Linked DNA regions of Homo sapiens: regions 1, 2, 3, 4 and 6 are each reported to be linked to region 5. Evidence: microRNA targets listed by miRTarBase, many of them from high-throughput screens and not tested one by one. Region 5 holds a microRNA gene; each other region holds the end of a gene's coding sequence.
The links. The annotated mature microRNA hsa-miR-34a-5p reads UGGCAGUGUCUUAGCUGGUUGU and lies in region 5 at 2,399-2,420, shown strand. An mRNA with a match to its seed (bases 2 to 7 or 8) in the 3' UTR can be bound and repressed. Matches are read on the target gene's strand: a 7mer-m8 pairs with bases 2 to 8, a 7mer-A1 pairs with bases 2 to 7 and ends in A, and an 8mer does both.

Region 1 (4,000 bases), not on the chromosome of region 5:
ATTCTTACCAGAAAAATATAACACTCATTATAAAGTTATTAAGTAATCCTTTTTTCCACACTTGCTAAACACCAACTGTGTGCTATATACTCCACTGAGAACTGGGGGAAAAAATGGAAAACGCCTGGTTGTACTTTATTTATCCTTGAGATGTGGAGGTGAGAAAGCTACAGAGGGAAAGCCAAACTAATCACTTTCATAGGAGTCAACTTATACGTCAAAGCGTACTGACATCCCTCAATCTTCAAATTTGTCTTTATCTCACTATATATCATTCTAATACAGTAACATAGTTAATAAAAATGATTTTGCACTTAAAAACCTAAGTACTTAAAGAGCTACCTAAAGGACCTAAAAATTGAGTCTTTCACTCCATGGTTACTATATTGTTCCTACTAGATTTTACAGTAGTACTATATCTGCTCGTAAGCATGAAGAATCAAATTTATAATTCATGATTGATAATGTGAAAGATGCTTTTGTCAAATAAAGCTACATAGTAAATAAATTTTTATAATGTCCAAGTTTTCGCTTAATCTCAAATGATCTGAAAAGAGGCATGCCTCTCTTCTTTCCTCTCTACCATCACTGTAATTTTTAATATTTTCAGACCAGGAGATAAATATATTTAGGAAACAAGAGGATGACAGAACTCAGGCAAGTAGGTATTTTGATGGACTCCATCCATTGATCGACAATGAATAGGTTCAAATATTCCTAAATATGGTCACACTTGATTTTCCTATCATACCCCAAGGTTTTACATTTGTATTTCAACCATGCTGGCACATGTAACAGGAAACCCAACTTACCTCAGACCTAAATATCAATAGTATGATAAATAAAAGTGAGACTGTCATTCTCTGGCATGACCCACATAAACCAAATTTCTAAAAACTGAAGAAAAGGTTACCTCAAATAGCCTATTAAAAAATACTGTAGAAAGATAACCATTAAAAACTACTGTCACACAATGTCAAAGCTTATATATTGTTTTCTCAGATAATGATCAACTCCTAGCTTGTTTCCAGTGTTAAATGTAACAAGACTAGTACACTAAACGAATTCACCTCACACTCAGATTGGAATACGGTTTATACCTCATCATCCTATAAAGACTGATAAGTCAACTTAAACTATAAACAAGTTACTTCGGGTCCCTAAATCTGTAAGAAAATCCTGGTGCTTATCAGTTCAACTCCCCAAACTGAAACGAAGAATAAACACTCTTAATGTGAACAATCATATTCAGACCAGCCTCTTGTGCAAAAATATAAGTCAGTGGATTTTTTTATCCTTACATAACTCAAATATTGCTATTTTTTTCTGCCTTTATTAAAATGGCAATTAGAGTTGAATTCCATGGTCATAATTTAGGTCATCCGAATGAAAATCAACATTATAAAGGACAATGACTTACTTTAATCTGAATTTACTCGTTCCTAGTTAACAATGCCAATATTTAAAAATGTATTTGTATTTTCCTAGGAGGTCACTATTTACTATTAGTCAAATAGGCATATTGGGGGTCTTCTCCAATTTTCTTTTATATTCTCTTCTATATCCCTCCATCCTATTTCTCCAAGAAACTTTTATGACAGTTTGTGACTAAGGAAATTTTAATGATTTTATCAACAGGTAACTTGTTTTAAATAAAGACGGACACAACATTTATTTAATTTTTTAATAAACCATAAAATTTAAATATTCAAATGAAAAGAAACAAAAATAGATTATTTAAGCCAGCATGAATTTCTGGTTTTACTCTTCCTCTAGGGCATTGTAGGCTTGACTTACCTGGGATTAGAGTAATAAAGCTATGATGCTGGTACAATAATGAATGAGGAAGTAAAAATGGGCAATGTCTTCATAAAATTTACTTTCAAATCTAGATCAGAAGTTCACTCAAGCCTACTGCAAAGGCCTGACACTGGTTTTGTCTGTATAAAACTACTCTGGCTTTTTACCACACTTTCTTCATCACAGCTTAGTGTTCCCTGCATTCTGATCCTTTTGCTCACTAAAGCTCACTTCAATCTGTCAAAACATCAAGGGGGAAAATCCCCAAAATGAACCGACGAATAAACACTCTTAATGTGAACAATCATATTCAGACCAGCCTCTTGTGCAAAAATACAAGTCAGTGGATTTTTTATCCTTACATAACTCAAATATTGCTATTTTTTTCCTGCCTTTACTAAAATGGCACTTTCGTTTACATCAACCAATTATTTTCTACTTGCTTCTAAGTTTCTGAGATTGTATGCTGTACTGGCTATTCTTTTTGATTAAGCTTTACAATTTCCATTCCAGAATATCTGGTCTTTGACCAACTTTATCTAATTTTGTGAAGAAATGTGCTATTAATCAGTGAAAATCGCAAAAGGAAAAAGAAAAGGAAGCAATGAACAATAGTAGAATCTCACTTCAGCATTTGTATAATTTTTTATAAGAAAAACATTCATTTTTATTATGGGATCTAAAACCATGATCGTGTCTGATACTGTAAGCCTTTTAGCGTACTCAAATGGGTCAACATTCAATATGGACAGCCAGCTAGCTCACAAGAAATGAAATGTAATGCACAAATATGTTTGACTGGTAAAATCCCAGAGGCTTGGTAATAAAGTGCAGCAAACTTTCCTTATATTGAATAAGAACTCCAGTAACCTCTGGATATTTTTGGTAAAAATTAAAGAAAAGGTACTGCAGTCAAGAGACAGGTAATCTTTAAACTTCAAAAGACTGGCTGCCAGGGACCACAGTGAAAAATTAGACCTGGAGCCAATGAAAAACACTAGCTTGGAAGGAATGGGTTTTTCCAAAAATGCAAAATTAGCATTTACAGATGCTTAGGATACTATGATTTGACAGGCTTACAGTGATAAAACAACAAAGATGAACAGTTACAATATTTATACGTGTAGTGTGTAAAGAACACAGGTTTTTTAATTGGCAGCAAGAAATTCTATGACAGCTTCTGAGACAAGTAATCCTATGCCCTATATCCACCCCATGCCAATGACGACCAGTCAAAATGGTAACACAGAGTAAAAAGTGATCTACTGTATGTGAGTCAGAAAGTACTTGAAAAGTGACAAAACTGTATGTTATTAAATGACAAAACATATTTAGAGGCTTTATTTAAAAATCTCTCACTGTTCATTATCAAAGTTACAAGATTGCATACCAATAGACAGACTGTAAACATAGGAAATTTTCGTTAAGGAAAGATGGGTTTACTGTAATTCAATCTTTTACAAAAAATTACTTGCAAGTTATTGATAACAGAATTTCTCTTTTACTTTCTTAATTCTCTTGAAAATTAAACCAATGTTTCCACTTTCATGAGCTAAAGTTCAACCATGGTCACCTTAGGAAATACCCCTGTTTATTTGTTAATCAGAAATACAAATCGAGTGGCACATACTTCCATTTTCTTCTTAGGCCAAAGGTTTCAGCTTCATTATATTTTACAGAAGACCTTCAGTGGTCCGGTAAGTCTTTCATGTCACAGCTGAGGTTTAATGATGGCAGTGGAGGAAAGCAGAGGTGATGCAAAGTAAGACCAGCCCAGTTGCCTTATCTGACATGGAATCTTTTTCCTGTCTGGCTTGCAGCAGCGAAGTGTTTCTGGTCAGGTTGCCTCCACCAAACCTGATTGAAGCAAAAGGGTGACATGCTCTGATAAATCCCATTTAAGGATGATTCTGTTCAGGCAAATAGTTGATCCTTCAATCTGTTGGCTGTGGGATGATACTAATATGAAGAAAATTATCCGGGTAGCTCAGATGTTCACTCAGCCACTGCAGAGGTGTTTCCAACATTGGCTCAATTCCATGAATCATCACTTGATTCTTTTTTTCCCCATCTATTCCAAGAAAGAAACCCAACAACAATAAAAGTCAAAACAGTTGAAGAAAAAATAATCTGGTGCCTTTTGAGAATCCTTAGTGCATTAAATGGATTTTAAACATGTTTTGTCCCCTGAACAGGAAAT
Region 2 (4,092 bases), not on the chromosome of region 5:
CCTCCACCTGCTTCATCTCTTTCTATATGTCTACATATTTTGTTGTTAAACTAATTGAAAGTAACTTTTAGTCATTATGACATTTTATCTCTAAGTACTTTAGCACACATCTCCGAAAACAAGACATTGTTTTACCAATCAGTGGTACCATTATTACAACCAAAAAGACAAAATAGTAGTTATGTACTATCCAATATTAAACGTTTATTCACATTTTGTCAATTGTACCCAAAATAGCTTTTTAACTATTTTCCCCAAACCAGAATCCAAGGCAAAATTTAACATGTTGTGTTTTGTTAAGTCCTCTTAGTCTCTCTAATGGCTTTTGAAGTTTAATTTCTTTAGTCATCTTATCTGACTTAGAAAACTTCATATGACCTAAAAAAAAAAAAAAAAATCTATTTCTGCTCTTTTAAATTATTTATTCACTGGGGTAAGGTTGTATTCAACCCCTTTTCAGTGCTACTCACTCACTTTAGCTTTACATTCTCTTGAGTAGGACTAATAAAAATGGATTACCAGTGTTGTTGTTTTAAATGTTTTCTAACAGAATTTGGCTCACATTTAAAAGTATCTACCTAAAAGCTTGTTTCCTTTGAATCCTGAGATTTTTCTCAGTTTGATTACCATTAGTGTGAATTGCTTTGAGTCTATTTGAAAGGGCCATGCTAGATCAAATGGAATATGTACTTTTGGTGTTTGACAAATGTCTTCTGATTGCCTTCTGTTGCTTTGTTTTAAAGTGAAATTCATTCTTTCTGATCTTTTACAGAGTGAAGTAATTGGGAAACTGTTCATTTGAGGATAAAAAAGGCATTGTATTATATTTTGCCAAATTAAAGCCTTATTTATGTTTTCACCCTTTCTACTTTGTCAGAAACACTGAACAGAGTTTTGTCTTTTCTAATCCTTGTTAGACTACTGATTTAAAGAAGGAAAAAAAAAAGCCAACTCTGTAGACACCTTCAGAGTTTAGTTTTATAATAAAAACTGTTTGAATAATTAGACCTTTACATTCCTGAAGATAAACATGTAATCTTTTATCTTATTTTGCTCAATAAAATTGTTCAGAAGATCAAAGTGGTAAAGACAATGTAAAATTTAACATTTTAATACTGATGTTGTACACTGTTTTACTTAACATTTTGGGAAGTAACTGCCTCTGACTTCAACTCAAGAAAACACTTTTTTGTTGCTAATGTAATCGGTTTTTGTAATGGCGTCAGCAAATAAAAGGATGCTTATTATTCAAACTTGACTTGTTCTAATTTTTATTGAGCTTTAACAGATTTCATTAGTAGTACAGATCATTGTAATTTAGAATACAGCTATTAATTGGCAACCATTCAACAAGATAGGTTTATGTAGCCTCTGTAACCTTTCTAACTGATGCTCTGGGTCCTCTTCAGTTTGGTCCAATGTAAAGTGCCCCAGGAGTGCTGGGGTTTCAGAAAGGACAGAGCAAGCATTTAGGATTTCAGACTAAACACCCACACTTCAGGTAGAGGAGCTCTATTTTTACCATTACTATTTTTTTTTGAAGTAATAATAATTAACTGTTAGTTTTCTTTTTCAGGCACGGTTACACAGTTTACATGTGTTATCTTTTTTGTTGTTGTTGTTGTTGTTACTGTTTTTTTGATACAGAGTCTCACTCTGTTGTCCACGCAGGAGTGCATTGGCACTATCTGGGCTTACTGCAACCTCCACCTCCCGGTTCAAGCAATTCTCATGTAGCTGGGATTACAGGCGCCTGCCGCCATGCCTGGCTAATTTTTGTATTTTTAGTAGAAAGAGTTTTTCACCTTGTTGGCCAGGCTGGTCTCGAACTGCTGACCTCAAGTGATCCACCCATCCCAAAGTGCTCGGATTACCGGTGTGAGCCACTGTGCCCAGCCAATGAAAGTTTTTTTAATAATTTGTTAAAAACACTTCAGATGCTAAATAACCACTGAGAAATATCTTGTGCCATTGAGTACTAAAGTACCCATTAGGCTGCACTGTGGTCATCTTGTTATTTTTGTGCACATAACAGTCATGCTTCTGTCATGGGGCCTCTGCATTTTCTGTTCTCTGGGCTTGGAACTCTCCTCTGGTGTGTCAGCTTTGGCTTGCTCCTTCACTATGTTGAAATCTGCTTAAATGTCACCCTTCTAATTAAGTCTTTCCTGACTGTCCGCTATCCTTCTGCCCTCCCTATTCTGCCTTATTGTCTGTCATACTTGATTTCTACTCTCCTTGTTCCCACCAGTAAGTAAGCTCCACAAGGACAAGAAACATCTCTTTGGTTCTTTGCTGTATCTGTAGCCTGAGACAGTGCCTGATACTTCATTGTGCTCAACTATTTAAATGAGTGAATGGATAAAATTCATTTTTGGAGGTTGAAGATTATCTAAAGTGGTGCTTCCTTACCTTTTCACTTCACTGCACATATAGTATTTCTAAGGCATATAGAAATCAACTGAAGTGACTTCTTATGGCCAGTGAGGACTGGTGTGGGGATTCAAGCTACCTTTTTCTACCTTTGCTGCTTTCAGCAAATCCTTGGGAAATTGATCTGAAGGCCAGATACTACATCATCAGCCTCTTTCCTTTGTCCTTTCCCATTGCCTAAAGGTGCTCATGTTGCTGCCACCTGTAACGAACAAATTCTGCCTTCCAAGTTACAGTGTCTTCTTGCTACTCTTTCTCTCTTCAGAGCTAAGTTCCTCAGAATAATTGTGTAATTCTATTATTTTTTCAACCTTTCTGTATGTTTGAATTAAAAAAAATAAATTTCAAAGGACTCTGGGGACACAGTCCAGTCTCCTGTCAGTTTGTATCCCTTCCCTCAACATCTCAACCTTACAGTCATTCATCTTTTGCCTCTGAAGTAGCAGGAAGTTCATAACATTGCCTTTTCTAACTTGACAGCTGTAACTGTTAATGGTTCTTCTATGACATTATTAAAAGTTGTGTCCCTGATACTTGCATCAATCTGTCCTTTCTCACTACAGAATCACATAGGAAAATCTTATCACACTCTCAGTGATTGTTCAGATATGCAAAGATAATTCTGTGCTCTACGTTCATTCCCCTTACAGTTAAATATTCGCAGCTCCTTAGTTGCACTGAGTGATTAAAGGCCAAACTAGCCTCCTTGCCTCAATCCCCGACTGTCCACCTTCTCCCAGTATATTACAAACCTATCTCCAGGAGAGGAAGGGAGCATCAGAAGAGAAGGAATTCTGTGTCATCAAACTCAAATGGCTCTCCTTGCCACCATCACAGTCAACTGAGGCAGAAAGCCCCAAGAAAATTACACATTGAAGGAAGCTTACAGGAAGAGAATAAAGAATAGTCAGGGGCAGACTTCTTGATCCCCCAAAAGAGAAGAGAGAGACGTGGAAGGGAGGAGTGGGGATGCCTGTGAAGCCGGCCATACCCTTGGGTTTGGCGTAGGAAAACTAATTCATTTCCTGGAGGTAGTGATATTGTGTAAAGCATCGAGGCTTGAGCTGCCTTGCATGCGTTTCACTCTAGCTGCAAGAGGCTATGTGGTGTATAGCTGTGGGCAATAGCTGTGTTGCTCACAGAGTTAGAGCTAGATTTTTCATGTGTCTTGCATCCCGGGACAGAGACTGCATATGGGCACCTGCCACTTGTGGAATCTGCCCAGGATGAGATGTAGGGAGAAGCAGTTACCACCAGAAGGAGGCTGCAGTTATACCCTCGTTTGTTAAGACACGTTTGTCCCTTGACCTCATTCATTTGGGTCCCCAGAAAAGGAAGGGCAAAGGAAGAATGAAAGAAAAGACGATTCCTTGTTGACATTATTAAAGCCAGGGGGCAGATGGGAGATGGGTTATTACACTGGGTTGGACTGGACTTGTATTAACCGAAGTTACAGAACAGCTTTTGGGTCTGCTTAGGATGTGCAGAAGAGGGAGACTCCGCAAAGCAGAGTTGAAGACTATGGTTGGGAAAGGACACTAACTTGTTAGGCTGTTCTGCAACCTGGGTGGTAGATTTTTTTTTCTTGACTACATTTTTGTCATTTTTATTTTCCTAGAAAATCTGGCCATTTCATATTTGTTGGCAGAGTTCTACAAG
Region 3 (4,092 bases), not on the chromosome of region 5:
CCAAAGTACTGAGATTACAGGCATGAGCGAGCCCCTGTGCCTGGCCTCAGTATATTTTTTTAATAATACTCAATTAGGAATATCAAATTTGCCAAATAATTTAATTTCTTTACATATACTAAATTAAGCTGTATGACAAACATTTACATCAGGTCAGTCTGGCTTTGTGGCTAGAGTTATCAGTTCATTTAGGATAGTGTCAAAAGTCTGAATTTGAATCCCTTTTTGAATTATAAGACACAGGCCAAATGGCTTTCCTGACATCTCAACCCTGATCACTAGGCTTGGCCCTAACAGGAATTAGTCAATTTGGTCCTATTTTGACACTGCAGATTAACATAATTTGGAGCAGGCTGTCCTCTCTCAGAGGGCAAGCTTGTCCACACCCAAATACAGGTGTCTCCTGATCCTAGTTTCTCAACTAGCATGGAGATCTCAACTTGATGCAAAAGTCCCCTTTAATGAACCAACAGGTTTTGTTTCCAAGTTGTGTATATGCCCCCTGCCCCTCCCCTCCCACACGAGTAGAGAAAGTATGTATGATATCACGTACCTGAAACAGAGGACAAAAGCAAATGAGGAAAGCTGTCTTGAGGGTGAAGTCATCCTGCTGGGTTTGCCCCTGGCATTAGCTCCCTCCCTACTACCACATCTTGCTGGATCGCAGAGCCATTGGGAGGGGGTGACAACCCAGTAAACAGGGAATGGATACAAAAACACTGTTCCACTCTTGTTGGATGGGGTGACAACCCAGTAAACAGTGAATGGATACAAAATAATTGTTCCACTCTTGTTGGAGGGGGAGGGATAGCAGGTCAGGATATACCCTTCTTGATTCAATGATGAATAAATGGATAAATCTTGGATCAATAGTAGATGAAGAAAACCCAAAACAAAAACAGAGCCTTTAAAAAGAACCTGCAACATAATAGGAGGAAATTACATCATGTAAGAGATGGAGGAAGAACAGTTAAAAGTAATTTTTAAAAGGCCAAAATAAATGAAGTTATAAGCAAAATAATAGTAGACTTAATAAAGTAAAGACGTGGATCTTTTCCAAGAGAAAACAAAATACACTTAAAAATAAACATTTGGCAAAGCTAATAAAATAATTTCCTGTTCCTTGAGTGTTTGAAAGAAACTGATCTGCTAAACTGCCTGAGCCAGGCCTCAGCCAATATCCAGTTTCTACTATGCTATTGATTTCTTGTTATTTTCTATGCCTACAATTTTATATTTATTTCCATATAAAATCATCTGTCATTAAAATTACTGAATTTATTATGACAGACTTTGTGATTATGTCAAATACCTGGCATGATATAGTAATGAAATAATAAATCACCATTTCCTAAGTTGGTGTTCTGAGGAACACTGACAGGCCAAATGGTATTAGGTGTGTTTAAAAGAAAAAAAAAAAGGTGGTTCTGTGCTCAAATAAGTTCGGAAAATGCTGAGTTACACAAAGTTAAATAGTTTTTTTTTTTTTTAATTGAAGAAGCTACCCATTAAAAAAAAATACTAGCCAACATTTATTGCACAATGAGTCTCCAAGAGAGATTAAAGTATACAGCATTTTGCAAATGTATTTCCTTGTCTCCCAGAAGAATATTTTTTTTTCACAAAACACAATTTGGAATTGCTGTAGCAAACACATTCTGGCTAAAATGAGAAACAAGACAAAAATGCCACTGCCACCTTTATTATTTAGCACTGTTATGAAAATGTTTAACCCATGCAGTCAGAAATTATGTTATAAATTTTGAAAAGGAAAACATATAATTATAACATAATTGATAGGATTTCTCACCTGGAAAAACTCAAAAGGATCAAATGAATATCTCTAAAATTAATAGATTTCAATAAATTGCCAATTTAAAATAATCGATGCAAATAAATTCTTCTCCTATATAGCAAAAATGACCACATAGGTAACATATTAAAAGCTCCAATAAGCAGTATCAACGTGTTCCCTGTATGTCTGTATTACCTAGGAACATATTTATTACAAATTATATAGGATTTAAGTAAAACTCTCTTGAAGGATATATAAAGTTTTTCAGAAACAAGGCAACATGTTTCTGGAAAGCAATGCAATTCTGTAGTCCTCACAGTCATATCAATTTAAGAGAATCCCAACCAAATTCTCAATATATTTTTGGGGGAAGAATCTATTAACTGTAAAATTCATCTGGTAAAATAAACATGTCAGAATCGTCAGAATATTGTAAAAAATAAAAAAGATCAAGAGGAGGTCTCACATTAAAAGATACAAAGTCCCATTTCTAACTCATCTACAGGCTGGTGTACTGGTGCCACAATGTTCAATGGAACTAAAGGGAATCCAAACACAGAATAAAGTATATACATGTATGACATTTCATATGTTGGGGGAAAAGGTAAATATGTTAACAACTGGCTAACCCTTTGGGGCAAAAAAGTTAGAATACCTAAATCCATACATCAAGATAATTCCAGACAGGACAAAACATTTTCTAAATAAAACCATATAAGTTAGAGAAATATAGGATAAGATTTATATAATCTCGGGGTGGGATAATCCTCCTAAACACGATCCTAGGGCCAAAAGGCAAAAAGAAAAGATTTATCCATTTTTTAATTTTTTATTTTTTTTAGTCATTTTTAATGCATTTTTCTCTGTGCACAAGAGAAATAACTGATGAAGTCAAAAGACACACTTTCCTTTATACATAGCAGTTAAAAGTAATGCAAACATCACATGACACTTTCAGTGAAAGTTACATTTCCAATTACAAATCAAAATGCATATTAGGGTCTCTTTATGGGAGAAGCTGAGAAGGAAGTCTTAGGTAAAAAGCACTTTCCTGGCATTACTACACTGATCCTTCAGGCTGCACAAAGATTAAGGTCATATACAGTCAATCTGCAAATGTTGACACAATGTTACACTGTAAATTTTCTGTACAATTAAATGTATACTTAGAGATACCAGGATAAACATTTCTACTATATTTTAACTGAACTTGCCTAGCCAACATTTTCACTGAGAAGTTTATCAAAGATGCTGTAAGATTCTACAAAATTGTGAGACATAACTAGCTCCAGAAACATTTCTTGTATTCTTTCTCATTTTGGTTACACATATTACACTCAGATTCTACTGTAATATTTTTAGATGTACAGTGCCAATTGTGCTTACTGTACTGTATACAAATATAGCAAAAAAGATCAATGGTATAAATCTTACAGCATTTTGCTAGCAAAAATACATGCCAAAGTCACAATAAGCAATATCGTACCACAAATTAGAGAGCTTCAAATAATTTGCTTCTGTTTTTAATATCTTCATTCTACATTAAATTACTATCATAGGCTAATGTTTAAAAATGCAAATAAATTGGACATCTGTAGGACAACACTTGTTCACCCAACTGTGAAGGTTGATACCTGTTTCCAAAAATCACAATAAATGCAGAATAAAGAGAAGTGTTTGCATGCAACACTTTTGAGTGAAACAGCATTGATTCCCACCACTCAAAACGGCTAAGGAAGGAAACTAAAGGAAATAAGGAAGGAAGGAAACAAAGAGGGAGGGAGTGGGGAGACAAGAGGAAGGGAAGGTAGGAAAAATAAGCAAAGGAGAAAGGGAGTGAGGGAAGTAGGAGGGAGGGACTCCATCTTAAAATGCATCATATTAGACTTACAACTAGACAGATTTAAAAGAATCAAAATGAAAGTAAAGAACGATTTTGTGTGTGTGTTTAAAGATTTAAGAGCCATTATCAAAAATAAGATACATTTTTTTTCCAGGTACAGAAATGTGATTACGATGGCTGGGAGCCCAGCAGCCTTTCAATGGCTGCATTGATGTCGCCTCCTGTTGCTATTAGGGCCTGCAAGTTTGCTTCACGGTTTAAGAACCCCATTGCGTTGAGCTGTTCCAGTTGTTGCTGAAATCTGACTTCTGGATTCGGCAGCTGTGGAGCATTTGCTCCAGCCAGGGCCTGCACCATTTGCTGAATGAACTGCTGGTTGGGTCCAGATTCTGATGTAGGACTCGTGGTTTCACTAGGTGCAGCGCTGGACACAGTAGGCCCCGTGGGGCCACCA
Region 4 (4,099 bases), not on the chromosome of region 5:
ATGGAGGTGATGTTTGAGATGAGATGTGCTAGACACAGTGGGGGCTGGGGAGACACTGTCAGGTAAACAGCACCACAAGAGAGCATGGTGTATTCCAGGGCCAGCGTGACTGGAGCAAGGAGGAGTTGCAGGGAGCAAAAGTCTAAAGAGCTCAGCAGAGGTCCGATTACCAGTGACTCTGAAAACCACCTTCAAGTTTGCACTTTAGCCTATGGGCGAGTGAGGCCAGGGTGTTTAAGGAGGAGTGACAGGGTCAGATTTTTGGTTTTGGTGCCTGATGGCCAGTTTGGGAGCCAGATAAAGGGGGACATACTGGGCTGAGACAAGATTGGGAGTCATCAAGAAGCAGGGAGTTGGTTTCTTCAGGGAGGGGAGGGGCTGGTGGGCACCATGGGAACACACAGATTTGGTTATCTGTCATCCCTCACCACAAACTGATCTTTCTTCTTTCCTTAGTTTTAATCAGCTGGATCTGCCTGCCTATGAGAGCTTTGAGAAGCTCCGCCACATGCTACTGTTGGCTATCCAGGAGTGCTCTGAAGGCTTTGGGCTGGCCTAATAAGGCCCTGCCCAACTCCGTGGGGTTTTTTTTACCATTGTTGGACCTGGGGAGGGGGGAGTTAAAAAAAGAACCAGAAAGAAATTGTCAAAAACCAATAAATGAAATCCACCAACTCACCGTGTGTGTCCCAGCTGCCCCATCTTCCCCAGCGCATACCTGTTCCTCTTCTCATTCTCTCCCCGCCGCCTGTTTCCTCACCTTCTCTCCCCTTTCCATGCCGTCCATGATCCCCACCCCATGTGTTTTAAAAAGGCAGTAGCCTTTGCAGGGACCTGTCTGTCCCAACTGTTTGAACAGTGTGCTCCTCAGATTCTGTGTTCAGAAGGATTTGCTGCATTGAGACTTGAAACCTTTGGATAGGGGAAAAAATTATATATATATATATTTTTTTGTTCTGTTTGCATTTCTTAATTTGTGCTTGGAATGTGTTGATGTGCACAGCTAATGATTCAATGCGAGACAAGATTGGCGTCTGTGTTGTGGAGGTTTCAAATAAAGAGCACTCTTCATAACTCACTTTTCACAATGGAGTTTTTTTCAAACTTAAAAAAAAAAACAAAAAACTCTTAAGCACATGCTAGGCATCTGGAGAAAAGATGGATTCTCCAGGAAACCATCCCTGCCCTACCCGCTTGCCCACCTGCCTCCACCACTGGTGCAACTTCCTCCTTCAGAGTCAGTTTCTGCAGTCAGGAGAGATGAGCAGTTCACCAGGAATTGGGGGTGGGGGCATCTGTTTTTTTTTTTTAGAATGGGAGCTGCACTTGGGGATGGTGATGGTGTTAGAGATTGCAGCCCAGGACAAAGCATCACCTTGCTCAAGGGGAACAAACTGCAGCAGGTTGTACAAAACATTCAGAGAGCTCACTTGACCCAACCGAGGGTTTTACTTGGTGAGCCTTTCTAGTAGTCTTGAGTCTGGGGCTCAGTTTTAGATTTTTATTTCATTAATGTTTGTTTATTTCTAATAAATTTTAATAAGCGAGTAATTTAACTAGGTCGCCAGAAGACCATTATTTTTGTTTGTCTATTTTTGTTGTCGTCACTCCCTCTCTCGTCATCTGTCTGCCAGTCTGTTCACAGATCACCTTGTAGTCCCTTGTGGTTTTTACTCCATCCAGTGCTTAAAGCTGATCTAAGGACTTCGATGGTTCCAGCCTTCAAAGAAAAAATAATTTAATAAAAATTTAGTTAGAAAAAATAACCCCAAGTGGTGCTTGCCTTGTGTGGTTTTTCTCATTTTCCTGGGGTGCTACCTCTGAACAGATTGTCCCCTTGACCTTGTCCCAAAGTGTGGGTCTAGGAAAGAAAGGGTGTGTCTTTAACCTGATCCCCTGGTCCTGGAGCCAAGGCTGCTAGCCATTTTCCCCTTTTTTAGTGTTCCCACTCTTTTGTGCCTGGCCCTGCTTTGATGACTGAGAAGGCAGAGGAATTGCCCCATCCGTGTTACTGAGCTTCTAGTAGGGAGGCGAAGACAGTGATTAGTTTTGTGACAGATGAAGAAAGGGGTCTCAGTGCACATAGAAGTGCCTGACCTAGCCTGGAGAGTCAGGGAAAGCTTTCCATCGTCGGTGCACTTGGATTGCAGCCTAAAGCTGAGCAGGAGTTGAGGTTAAGCAGAGAGGGGTCATATAATTCAAGGCAGGAGGAGTTTAGTTGCTTAGAGTCCAGCAGGACTTTAAAATGGAAGAGATACACCAGGTGCGGTGGCTCACGCCTGTAATCCCAGCACCTTGGGAGGCTGAGGCGGGTGGGTCACCTGAGATAAGGAGTTCAAGACCAGCCTGGCCAAAATGGCAAAACCCCGTCTCTACTGAAAATACAAAAATTAGCCAGGCGTGCTGGCGTGCGCCTGCAGTCCCAGCTACTGGCAGTCCTAGCCACCGCGCCAGTCCCAGCCAGGTTCCGTGACTCACGCCTGTAATCCCAGCACTTTGGGAGGCTGAAGCAGGAGAATCGCTTGAACCCGGGAGGCGAAGGTTGCAGTGAGCTGAGATCACGCCATTGCACTCCAGCCTGGGTGACCGAATGAGACTCGGTCTCAAAAAAAAAAAAAGAATAAGCAGAGAGTAGAATTTGTCAATAAGCAGTAAGATTAACTGGTTCTTTGAAATAAAGGTCTGGCAGGTAATTTAAATTTGAAAGTAAAGGGGGGGTTCCTGGGTTGGAGGTTGGGGGTTGGATGTGGAAGCTGGGAGTACAGATGGAATAATCCTATGGGAAATGGAAGCAAATCTCATTCAGTGGGATACTACAAAAATAGAGCATGATCAAGTGTGATTTGCCCCTGGGATATGTGTAGTGTAATATTAATCGCCTCATTGTCAGTTGAGAAATCTTTGTCCGTAGATGGCAAGGCATTTGTTCACATTCAAGAACCATTCCTGGCAACCTTTAAAGGTAAAGCTAGCTTGATAAGGTAGTTTCAGACCAACAGCCAACATCACACTTGAAAGATAAGGTGGCTAATTATCACTATTAGTGCTGTTCTGCTATTCTGCAGTTTTCTATTTCAGTAAAACAGGAAACAAAAGGTATAACTTAAACCATTTGCTAACGGAGTCAAAAGTTATTGGAGCAGGGCATGGTGGCTCATGCTTGGAATCCCAAGGCTTTCAGAGGCCAAGGTGGGAGGATTGCTTGAGCTCAGGAATTCAAGACCAGCCTGGGCAACATAGCAAGACCTCTCTACTGAAATTTTTTTTTAATCTAGGCATGGTGGCACACACCTGTAGTCCCAGCTACTCGGGAAGCTGAGGTGGGATGATCGCTTGAGCCCCAAAAATCGAGGCTGCAATGAGCTATGATCACGCCATTGCACTCCGGCCTGGGAGACAGCGAGACCCCGTCTAAAAAAAAAAAAGTATTGGAACTTAAAACAGTCTAGCAAGAAACTTGGCTATAATGAACAAACTATTCACATAAACTTATTACCTAACATAAATGAATTGTGACAAATTCCTACAATGGAATCCTACACAGTAGTAAAAATATCAATTGCATACATCACATGCACAATCTCAATGATAAAGTTTCAGGCTGGGCGTGGTGGTGCGTGCCTGTAGTCCCAGCTACTTGGGAAGCTGAGGCGGGAGTATCACTTGATCCTAGGAGAGAGGTCAAGGCTGCAGTGAGCTGAGATCATACCGCTGCACTCTAGCCTGGGTAGCAAGTGAGACCCTATCTCAAAAAAAGAAAAAGTTTCAGGAGGGTACATACATATAAGACCTGCTCAAAAGTTGCAAAATCATGCAACATGTATGAAGAGTATGAAAAACCATGAGGATGATAAAATCTTGCACAATGTTGAGGATAAGTTATGGGACAATGCAGGGGTAGACAGAGGGGATGTGGCTGGGAAGAGGCACGTTACACAGGGCTTCAACTACATTGGTGATGTTTTCTCTCTTTTTTTTTTCGAGTCAGAGTCTTGCTTTGTCACCCAGGCAGGAGTGTGGTGGCGCATGATCGGCTCACTGCAACCTCCACCTCCCAGGTTCAAAAGATTCTCCTGCCTCAGCCTCCCAAGTAGCTGGG
Region 5 (4,107 bases):
CCCCATCTCTGGATGGGCCAGCCCATCCCACACGCTTCTGCTGTGCTTACAAAGTTCAAGTGTGCTGTGGTCACTGTTTCCATGTGGCTATCTGTTTTCAGGATTCTGGGGTCCCCTGCCCCGTCCAGTCTTGGCTGGGAGTTGAGGGAGGGAGGAAGCTTTGAGTTTTTGCTTGTCTCTGCGCTGACCTGGGGACACAGCAACTGCAGGATGTACCTTTGGCATCATCCCAGAGCTGCCAAGTCTGAACTTCTAGGTTTGAACCTGGGAATCTGCATTTTACCAAAAGCTCCCCAGCCGATGCTTACACAGTGAAGCCGAGACCTGCCGCTCTAGCTGATGAGCATGCCCTGCTGGAATTTACCTTTGGGTTAAAATCTGACATATTAGGAGCTTTTTTTTTTTTTTTAAGACAGAGTCTCGCTCTGTCACCCAGGCTGGAGTGCACTGGTGTGATCTGCAACCTCTGCCTCCCAGGTTCAAGCAACTCTCCTGCCTCAGCCTCCCAGGTACCTGGAACTACAGGCACATGCCACCATGCCTAGCTAATTTTTGTATTTTTTTTTTTTTTTTGGTAGTAGAGATGGCGTTTCACCATGTTGACCAGGCTGATCTCGAACTCCTGATCTCAAGTGATCCACCCACCTCAGCCTCCCAAAGTACTGGGATTACAGGTGTGAGCCACCACGCCCGGCCTAAGAGCATTTTTCCCACACTAAAAGATAACACAGTCCAGCTGGCTTGCTTTTTAACCAGAGCATTACAGGGTCACCTGTTTGGAGGAGGAGGACTGAGGTCAGAGCAGGCTCCTGTCAACTCCAACGGGACATTTCACAGTGGCCACAACAGGCTGACCTCTGTGTCCTGTGTCCTGCTGACTGTGTGTGGAGGCCTCAGAGGGGCTCTTTCCCCCTTGCACAGAGAGAGACAGCACTGGCTCATGAGCCTGCTTTTTTCTGCACTACCTTACCTGGAACTCAAGTTTCTGGGACTTCCCATGCTGGGGTAGAGGTGACTTTGATCCTCCTGAAAACAGTCCTTCATGCCCCCACACCCACATGGAAGAGGAACTGTTCCGTGGTGGTCCGTATCCAAAGTCACTAGATCTTGGCCTGGCATAGTGGTTCATGCCTATAACCCCAGTATTTTGGGAGGCCGAGGCGGAAGGATCACTTGAGCCCAGGAGTTTGAGACCATCCTGGGCAACATGGCAAGAACCCATCTCTATAAAAACAACAACAACAAAACAACAAGAAGTCAGTAGATCTTAAAGCACTAGATCTTAAACCCTGTGATGGGCAATTTCCTTGTCAATTTAGCGAGGCTGTGATACCCATGATTCAACCAAACGCTTGCCTGGGTGCTACTGTGAGGTGCGTTGTACATGTGGTCAGCACTGATGATCACTGGCTGTAAGTCAAAGGTTCTCCTCTGCGAGGTGGGTGGGCCTCATGCAATCGGTTGAAAGGCCTCAAGAGCAGAACCGAGGTTTCCCTGAAGAAGAAGAAATCCTGCCTGGGGACTGCAGTGTCAGCTCCTCCGGGGAGCTTCCGGCCTGCTGGCCTGCCCTCTGGATTTCAGACTTGCCTAGCCAGCCCCCACAATCACGTAAGCCGATTCCTTGAAATAAACTTAATCTATATCTCCTTCTGGTTCTGATTCTCTGGCAGAACTCTGATCCTCTCCCTAAACGGTGCCCGGGACGGGGGAGGAGTTGGCGCTACTTCATTGCTTCCCTTTCACGCAGACATGCTGACTTTTCAACCACTGTCCTTTTCGAATTTTTTCTCTTCCAGGGAAGTGCTGACTCTTTTTCTCCTTGTCAATTAGTCCTTTTGGAATCTGTTACTGGTCTCAGCCTTCTCCTCCATCCTCTCTCTTTCATTATTTTTATTTTCATTTTGTAGAGACAGTTGCTGAAGGTGGTGGTCTGGCTATGTTAACCAGGCTGGTTTTGAACTTCTCGCCTCAAGTGATCCTCCTGTCTTGGCCTCCAAAATTGCTGGGATTACAGGTGTGAGCCATCACCCAATTTTTATTTTTAGAGACGGGGTCTCACCCTGTCACCCAGACTGGCGCAATCACAGCTCCCTGCAGCCTCAACCCCTGGGCTCAAGCGATCCTCCTGCCCTGGCCTCTCCAGTAGCTAGGACTACAGGCACGCATGTCACCATGCCTGGCTAATTTTTAAAATTTTTTTGTAGAGATGGAGTCTTGCTAGTTGCCTGGGCTGGTCTTGAACTCCTGGCCTGAAGCGATCCTCCCACCTCGGCCTCCTGCATCCTTTCTTTCCTCCCCACATTTCCTTCTTATCAACAGGTGCTGGGGAGAGGCAGGACAGGCCTGTCCCCCGAGTCCCCTCCGGATGCCGTGGACCGGCCAGCTGTGAGTGTTTCTTTGGCAGTGTCTTAGCTGGTTGTTGTGAGCAATAGTAAGGAAGCAATCAGCAAGTATACTGCCCTAGAAGTGCTGCACGTTGTGGGGCCCAAGAGGGAAGATGAAGCGAGAGATGCCCAGACCAGTGGGAGACGCCAGGACTTCGGAAGCTCTTCTGCGCCACGGTGGGTGGTGAGGGCGGCTGGGAAAGTGAGCTCCAGGGCCCCAGGAGCAGCCTGCTCGTGGGTGCGGAAGGAAAAAGGCACAGGGGCTTGGTGTGGGCGGCTTTTGGCTGGGAGAAGTTTGCACGTAGGGAGAATAGTAGCCAGTGTTTGCAGAGCACTTACTATGCAGGAAGGCCTGTCCTAAGTATTGTAAGTGTATTACATCATGTACAAGTGTCTGTGATTAACCCCGTCTTGCAGAGAAGGAAACAAAAGTACAAACAGAAAATGTAACTAAGCATGCAATTAATAAAAAGGGACCAGGTTTTGAACGCGAGCAATCTGGCTCAAGAATCTGCGCCCAACCACCGGCTCCTGTTCTTAGAGATGAACGTGGAGTCCTGGAGACTGCTCAACATTGTGACTTGACTGTGAGCGTACGCGCTCCCTGTCCCCAGGAGACAGATTTCCAGTGCAATCATAGAAAGTGCCTGTGTGGGCTTCGGGAGATGTGTCTGCCTTGGGGAGAATTTTCCTTTTCAGCTAGAGCCAGGCCCAGGATGTTGACGTCAGTGAGACGCTGGTGACGTTCTCTGCTCCAGTGGCTGATGAGAAAAGTTCCTCCAAGCCAGCTCAGTTGAGAAGAATTAAGTTCTCTGGGTCCCACTGGCTTCACCTACAGATGCCAACTTTGAGGCCAGTGAACTGTGAGGCCAGCTGGGCTGATTGCCATGGCAACAGGAATTGGACCAAAGTCACCGGAGGATGGAGAGGGAAGACACAGTGGTGGCTTCCCCAGGTCTTGGACCACAAGGCACAGCCGTGGCCTCCAGGAACCCTGAGATAACCCGTTAGTGGGTCCTGCACTCCAACAGAGCTCATGCAATCAGCCTCTGGTCCTCACCCTCCTCCCATTGGTGTCGTTGTGCTCTCTAACATTGACATTGAGCAGTGAGTGCTCCAGATCTTGTTCCACTGATTTTTTCCACTGTTCTCCAGTCTAGCACTTTCTGAAATTCATCCAAGCCTAAGAGGTGACGCCAAACGTAAGTGTCTTACACCTCGGACCCCATGGACTAAGACAAGCCTCTGGGGTCCATGTGGCACCAAGGATGGGGCCTTCTAGTACCTTTCACACAGGCCAGGGACAGCACCTGCTGCGACCCCCACCCCCAGCCTCTGCTGCTTCTCCCGTTGCCCTTCCAGCCACTGCCCTGGGCACCTCCCCTGCTCCCGCCTCCCTGCCTGGGCCCATCTTTCTTTGCACCTCACCAATTGCGGGGCTTCCTAGTGCTGGAGGGGAAGGGAGCCTGCTTCCATTCTCACCACTCTGAAAGAAGACCCTGCAGAGAGGTTTTCTGGAATTTGGAGCCTAACCTTGGCCTTGACACAGTCCAGATGAGAAGGCCGTCCCCCAGTTAAGCCAGCCCTCCCTCCCTCTCAATGCTGGAGAGGAAACCAGGCAGCTGGTTGCTTCAGCAAACCCCCTCCCTATGGGAATTGTCCTTTTCTTCCTCAAATAGACTGGAGTGCAGAGGACTTGCTTCAGAGAGAGCCCCTTTGTAAC
Region 6 (4,107 bases), not on the chromosome of region 5:
TTTGTCACATCATTTTTCTCCCTACTTTTTGCTTCTATGGGTGGGATGGTGATCTTTTTTCTTGACCACAGATACTAAAGCTGTTTCAACCGTGCTCCTCTCCTGCAGATCTCTGGGGGAGCCATGGACTCTCAATTACATCCAAACAGTGGAGGCTTCCGCCCTGGGACACCCTCACTGCACCCTTACAGGTAAGACTCGATGCCTGTGGATCACAGAAGTACTTGGAGATGTGTTTCGGGGAGAGGGAAGGGGAAGACACAGTTCTAGGGTACTAGAAGCTAGTGGACTTAAGGCATTGCTAGGACTCTGGCTTCCTAACAGCTTTTCTCCCCACAATTTATTTTCAGATCACAGCCCCTATACCTACCCCCCGGCCCAGCCCCTCCCTCAGCACTGCTCTCTGGGTTAGCTCTCAAGGGCCAGTTTCTGGATTTCTCCACAATGCAAGCTACAGAGCTGGGGAAGTTGCCGGCTGGAGGAGTTCTCTACCCTCCACCTTCCTTCCTCTACTCTCCGGCTTTCTGCCCCAGTCCTTTGCCTGACACATCGTTGCTTCAGGTAAGAGGGGGGCAGGTATTAGATATTGGGGGATAGGGTAGGGAGAATGATTTTGTGGGGGTTGATATATTTCTCCCTGTTTCCCGACAGGTACGCCAGGATCTGCCATCCCCTTCGGATTTTTATTCTACTCCTCTGCAGCCTGGTGGCCAAAGTGGCTTTCTCCCTTCAGGGGCTCCTGCCCAGCAGGTATATTGTATCTTCACACTTCCCCTTCATTTGATTTCTCTGTCCAGTTGCTGGCTTTGATTTTCCCTGGTTTTCTGACATTCCTCCCTGCCCCCAACATGCACACCCAAATTTCTTGTTACAGATGCTTCTACCCATGGTAGACTCACAGCTGCCTGTGGTGAACTTTGGCTCCCTGCCGCCAGCACCACCTCCTGCCCCACCTCCCCTTTCTCTGTTACCTGTGGGCCCTGCTCTGCAGCCCCCCAGCCTGGCTGTGCGGCCCCCACCTGCTCCTGCTACTCGGGTGCTGCCTTCACCTGCCAGGCCCTTCCCCGCTAGCTTGGGGCGAGCAGAGGTAAGGTACAGGAACTGAGGGGCTAGGGAGCGCCAAGACTTGGGAGTAGGGATTCTGTATTTCAAGGTAGGCAGCTCATGATTTTTTTCCCCTCAGCTGCATCCAGTGGAACTAAAGCCGTTCCAGGATTATCAAAAACTGAGCAGCAACCTTGGGGGACCTGGATCATCACGGACTCCCCCAACTGGAAGGTGAAACGGAATAGGGATGTGGACTTTCCAAGTGCTTCCTTACTTTGGAACCAGGGTCTGGATCCTAGGCTTGCCTTAGACGCCCTTCTTCCCTTAGGTCCTTCTCTGGCCTCAATTCCCGTCTCAAGGCCACGCCTTCCACCTACAGTGGAGTCTTCCGCACCCAGCGCGTCGACCTTTACCAGCAGGTGAAGGAGAAACCCTTGTGGCCCCAACTCTAAATTCGAGTTGCCACCTGATTTCCTGTCCTTCCGTCTCATCGCTGACCTCTCACTGTGACTCACTGTTTAACACATGCCTGTCCCCTAGGCCTCCCCACCAGATGCCCTGCGCTGGATACCTAAGCCTTGGGAGCGGACAGGGCCGCCACCTCGAGAAGGGCCCTCCCGACGGGCAGAGGAGCCTGGGTCCCGAGGGGACAAGGAGCCTGGGTTGCCCCCACCCCGCTGAGGGAGTTCCTCTTGCCCCCTACCCCCGGGGCTTGTATATAGATTATAAATATATAAGGGGGAAAGGGGTGGGCGGGGAGGGGTTCTGGGGCTGGGGCCTCACTTCCCCTCCTCCCCCTTCCCCTGGTCCCCTGTCCCTGGGGCTGTTTGTTAAAAAAGAGTAATAAAAGGATTTAAAAAAAAAAACTTCTACAATGATTTGGGGGATGAGTTGTTTGCATTGTCTTAAAGCATGGTGCTGAGTGATCTGTAGTTTCAGTCAGGGAAATATTCATTACTTATTCCAGTGAGCTGTTGAAACTAAAAACATGACCATCGTATTGGATCTTTAAATTTTTGTGAGTCTGGAATTTGGGCTGAGCTCAGCTGGATAAATCTGCTTTTTTGTGCCAGTGAGCGAGGTCAACTGGTTATCAGTCTGCAGCTGACACCTGGGCTGGTCCCAATATGGCTTCCTTTGCATATCTAGGGCCTTGGTGGGACATCTGTAACATTACTGGGTTATCAACCAGTGTCTTCACATGGACTCTCCAGCAGGCCTGTTAAATGTCCGTGAGCTCATGTTCCAAGAGGTCTAGCTGGAATTTTCTAAGCTTATGCCATGCTTAGTTGATAAGAGCACTAAACTAGCCAAGGTAGGGGATGGGGGGGTTTAGAAGGGACTTCAACTGCATCTCAAAGGGACTAGCAAAGAATTTGCAGCCATGGGACTTCAGTTCTTTATGATGAACTAAGGGGAAATCTCTGTTAAGGCCTCAATGTTGGAGCACACTTAAGGGGCTCTTTGAATTGGATAGACCAATTCCAGCATTGTCAAACTAAGTGGGATTTCACATGGTAACGCTGCATGCTAGTTATGCTAAAGACTATACTTAGGTCTGCAGCTGCTCAGAAACTTTTTTTGATGGGTAATTTGAGAGCTCTATGCTAGTGTGCACCTGGAATATGCTCCCAACTCAAAATACAGGTTTTTTATTTATATATAAAGTGCTTTCGCACAAAAAATACAAACATCAGGCTGGGCGCGGTGGCCCACGCCTGTAATTCCAGCACTTTGGGAGGCCAAGGCGGGTGGATCACAAGGTCAGGAGTTCGAGACCAGCCTGGCCAATATGGTGAAACCCTGTCTCTACTAAAAATACAAAAATTAGCCGGGCGTCGTGGCGGACGCCTGTAGTCCCAGCTACTCAGGAGGCTGAGGCATGAGTGAGAATCACTTGAACCCGGGAGGTGGAGGTTGTAGTGAGCCGAGCTCGAGATCGGGCCACTGCACTCCAGCCTGGGAGACAGCAATACTCTGTCTCAAAAAAAAAAAAAAACAAACATCAAAACTGGCTTGTACAATTTAGCGTGCTGAGTAGAACACAACAGTGTTCCAAGGAAGTATTAATTTAAAAAAGTTCACACAAGATTAAGGGACACACTACCTAATGGAGACAATGTAGAGAGAAAGCAGCCAGAAAAATCCGACTTTTATTTCTTAAATACTGTGAAGGAAGAGGGGGGAAACGGTCCCCTGATGAGGAAGGGCCATAGAGCAAAGAGCTAAGGATCATCAGCAAAGGCCCGCTGGGCATTGGGGAAGCGCTGGGGACTGTAGTTGGGGTCTTCCTGCAGTCGTTTTTGTATATCAGACCGGAGCTAAAGAGAAAAAGTAAGCAGGTTGGAGAAACGCTGGCCAAGTCCCCATGATCCCAGCAAGCACACAAGGCCATCCCTCAGAAGCTAACATTTCCCCCCCCAAGCACACTGTCAAATAGCCCGGGGTGGCACTGTCAAGCCTTCCCAGATGCCAAAGGGGAAAACAAATGGTAGCACCAGGCTGACCAGTTCATCGCTGAAGGGATCCAGGGAAGAGGGACCCTAGCCCAACCCCTCCCACTAGACCATCCCTATTCTGCTTCAAGGTGGCACCTGCTGCCTGTAGCTCTCCTGAACCTCTGGTGCCTCCAGGTCCCGGCTCAGGCTCTCGGGGCTCGTCAGGGGCCGAGCTCCGGCTGCCTTAGCTGCCCGGCTCACAGCCTCTGAGAGAAGCAGCTGGGGGCCCTCACCCTGCATCGTCTGGGGGACAGGGGGTTGGGAGGGAAAAGAGGATCAACGTCAGATCCAGTGCCACCATCCGGCTCACCCTTTCCATGAGTCAACCACTCCACTGAGTCTCCATGCTAGTGGAGAGAGGGGAAATTAAGAGTCCAGGATGTGGTTTTTACAGCAGAAATGCCTTCCTAATTCTCTTTGGCACTAGCCAAAACTAAAGTGAATGTGCTTGAACGTGCTCTTCAAAACGAAAGGCAGAAGGGGTCAAGCCATCCGGGATTCAGAGCTAGGTAATCCACAAGAGGAAACCCACCTTAAAGGAAAATGGGATCTAAGCACATGG

Region 1: the mRNA of ATG5 is a reported target of hsa-miR-34a-5p. Seed matches in the 3' UTR shown: 8mer at 3,532-3,539.
Region 2: the mRNA of KTN1 is a reported target of hsa-miR-34a-5p. The part of its 3' UTR that is shown has no 7-base or 8-base seed match.
Region 3: the mRNA of UBQLN2 is a reported target of hsa-miR-34a-5p. The part of its 3' UTR that is shown has no 7-base or 8-base seed match.
Region 4: the mRNA of HUWE1 is a reported target of hsa-miR-34a-5p. The part of its 3' UTR that is shown has no 7-base or 8-base seed match.
Region 6: the mRNA of BAG6 is a reported target of hsa-miR-34a-5p. The part of its 3' UTR that is shown has no 7-base or 8-base seed match.

What each region holds. Positions count from the first base shown.
Region 1 is chr6:106,182,806-106,186,805 of GRCh38, forward strand. ATG5 (autophagy related 5) reads right to left here. Exons shown (of 8, transcript NM_004849.4): 8 at 1,671-3,871. The coding sequence ends at 3,735. Among named protein-coding and RNA genes, the nearest start is that of PRDM1, 98 kb to the left of the region's middle.
Region 2 is chr14:55,683,327-55,687,418 of GRCh38, forward strand. KTN1 (kinectin 1) reads left to right here. Exons shown (of 44, transcript NM_001079521.2): 44 at 773-1,253. The coding sequence ends at 777. Among named protein-coding and RNA genes, the nearest start is that of KTN1, 110 kb to the left of the region's middle.
Region 3 is chrX:56,565,463-56,569,554 of GRCh38, reverse strand. UBQLN2 (ubiquilin 2) reads right to left here. Exons shown (of 1, transcript NM_013444.4): 1 at 1,687-4,092. The coding sequence ends at 3,807. Among named protein-coding and RNA genes, the nearest start is that of UBQLN2, 3.9 kb to the right of the region's middle.
Region 4 is chrX:53,529,769-53,533,867 of GRCh38, reverse strand. It overlaps HUWE1 (HECT, UBA and WWE domain containing E3 ubiquitin protein ligase 1), which reads left to right. Exons shown (of 84, transcript NM_031407.7): 84 at 457-1,772. The coding sequence ends at 559. Among named protein-coding and RNA genes, the nearest start is that of MIR98, 25 kb to the left of the region's middle.
Region 5 is chr1:9,150,048-9,154,154 of GRCh38, reverse strand. MIR34A (microRNA 34a) reads left to right here and starts at 2,378; the gene lies at 2,378-2,487. MIR34AHG (MIR34A host gene) reads left to right here. Exons shown (of 2, transcript NR_132742.1): 2 at 2,320-4,107. RefSeq lists a silencer at 2,333-2,569.
Region 6 is chr6:31,635,859-31,639,965 of GRCh38, forward strand. BAG6 (BAG cochaperone 6) reads right to left here. Exons shown (of 26, transcript NM_001387994.1): 25 at 3,642-3,788; 26 at 3,170-3,368. The coding sequence ends at 3,273. PRRC2A (proline rich coiled-coil 2A) reads left to right here. Exons shown (of 31, transcript NM_004638.4): 25 at 109-191; 26 at 351-561; 27 at 652-750; 28 at 875-1,087; 29 at 1,184-1,278; 30 at 1,376-1,466; 31 at 1,588-1,913. The coding sequence ends at 1,728. Among named protein-coding and RNA genes, the nearest start is that of MIR6832, 4.1 kb to the left of the region's middle.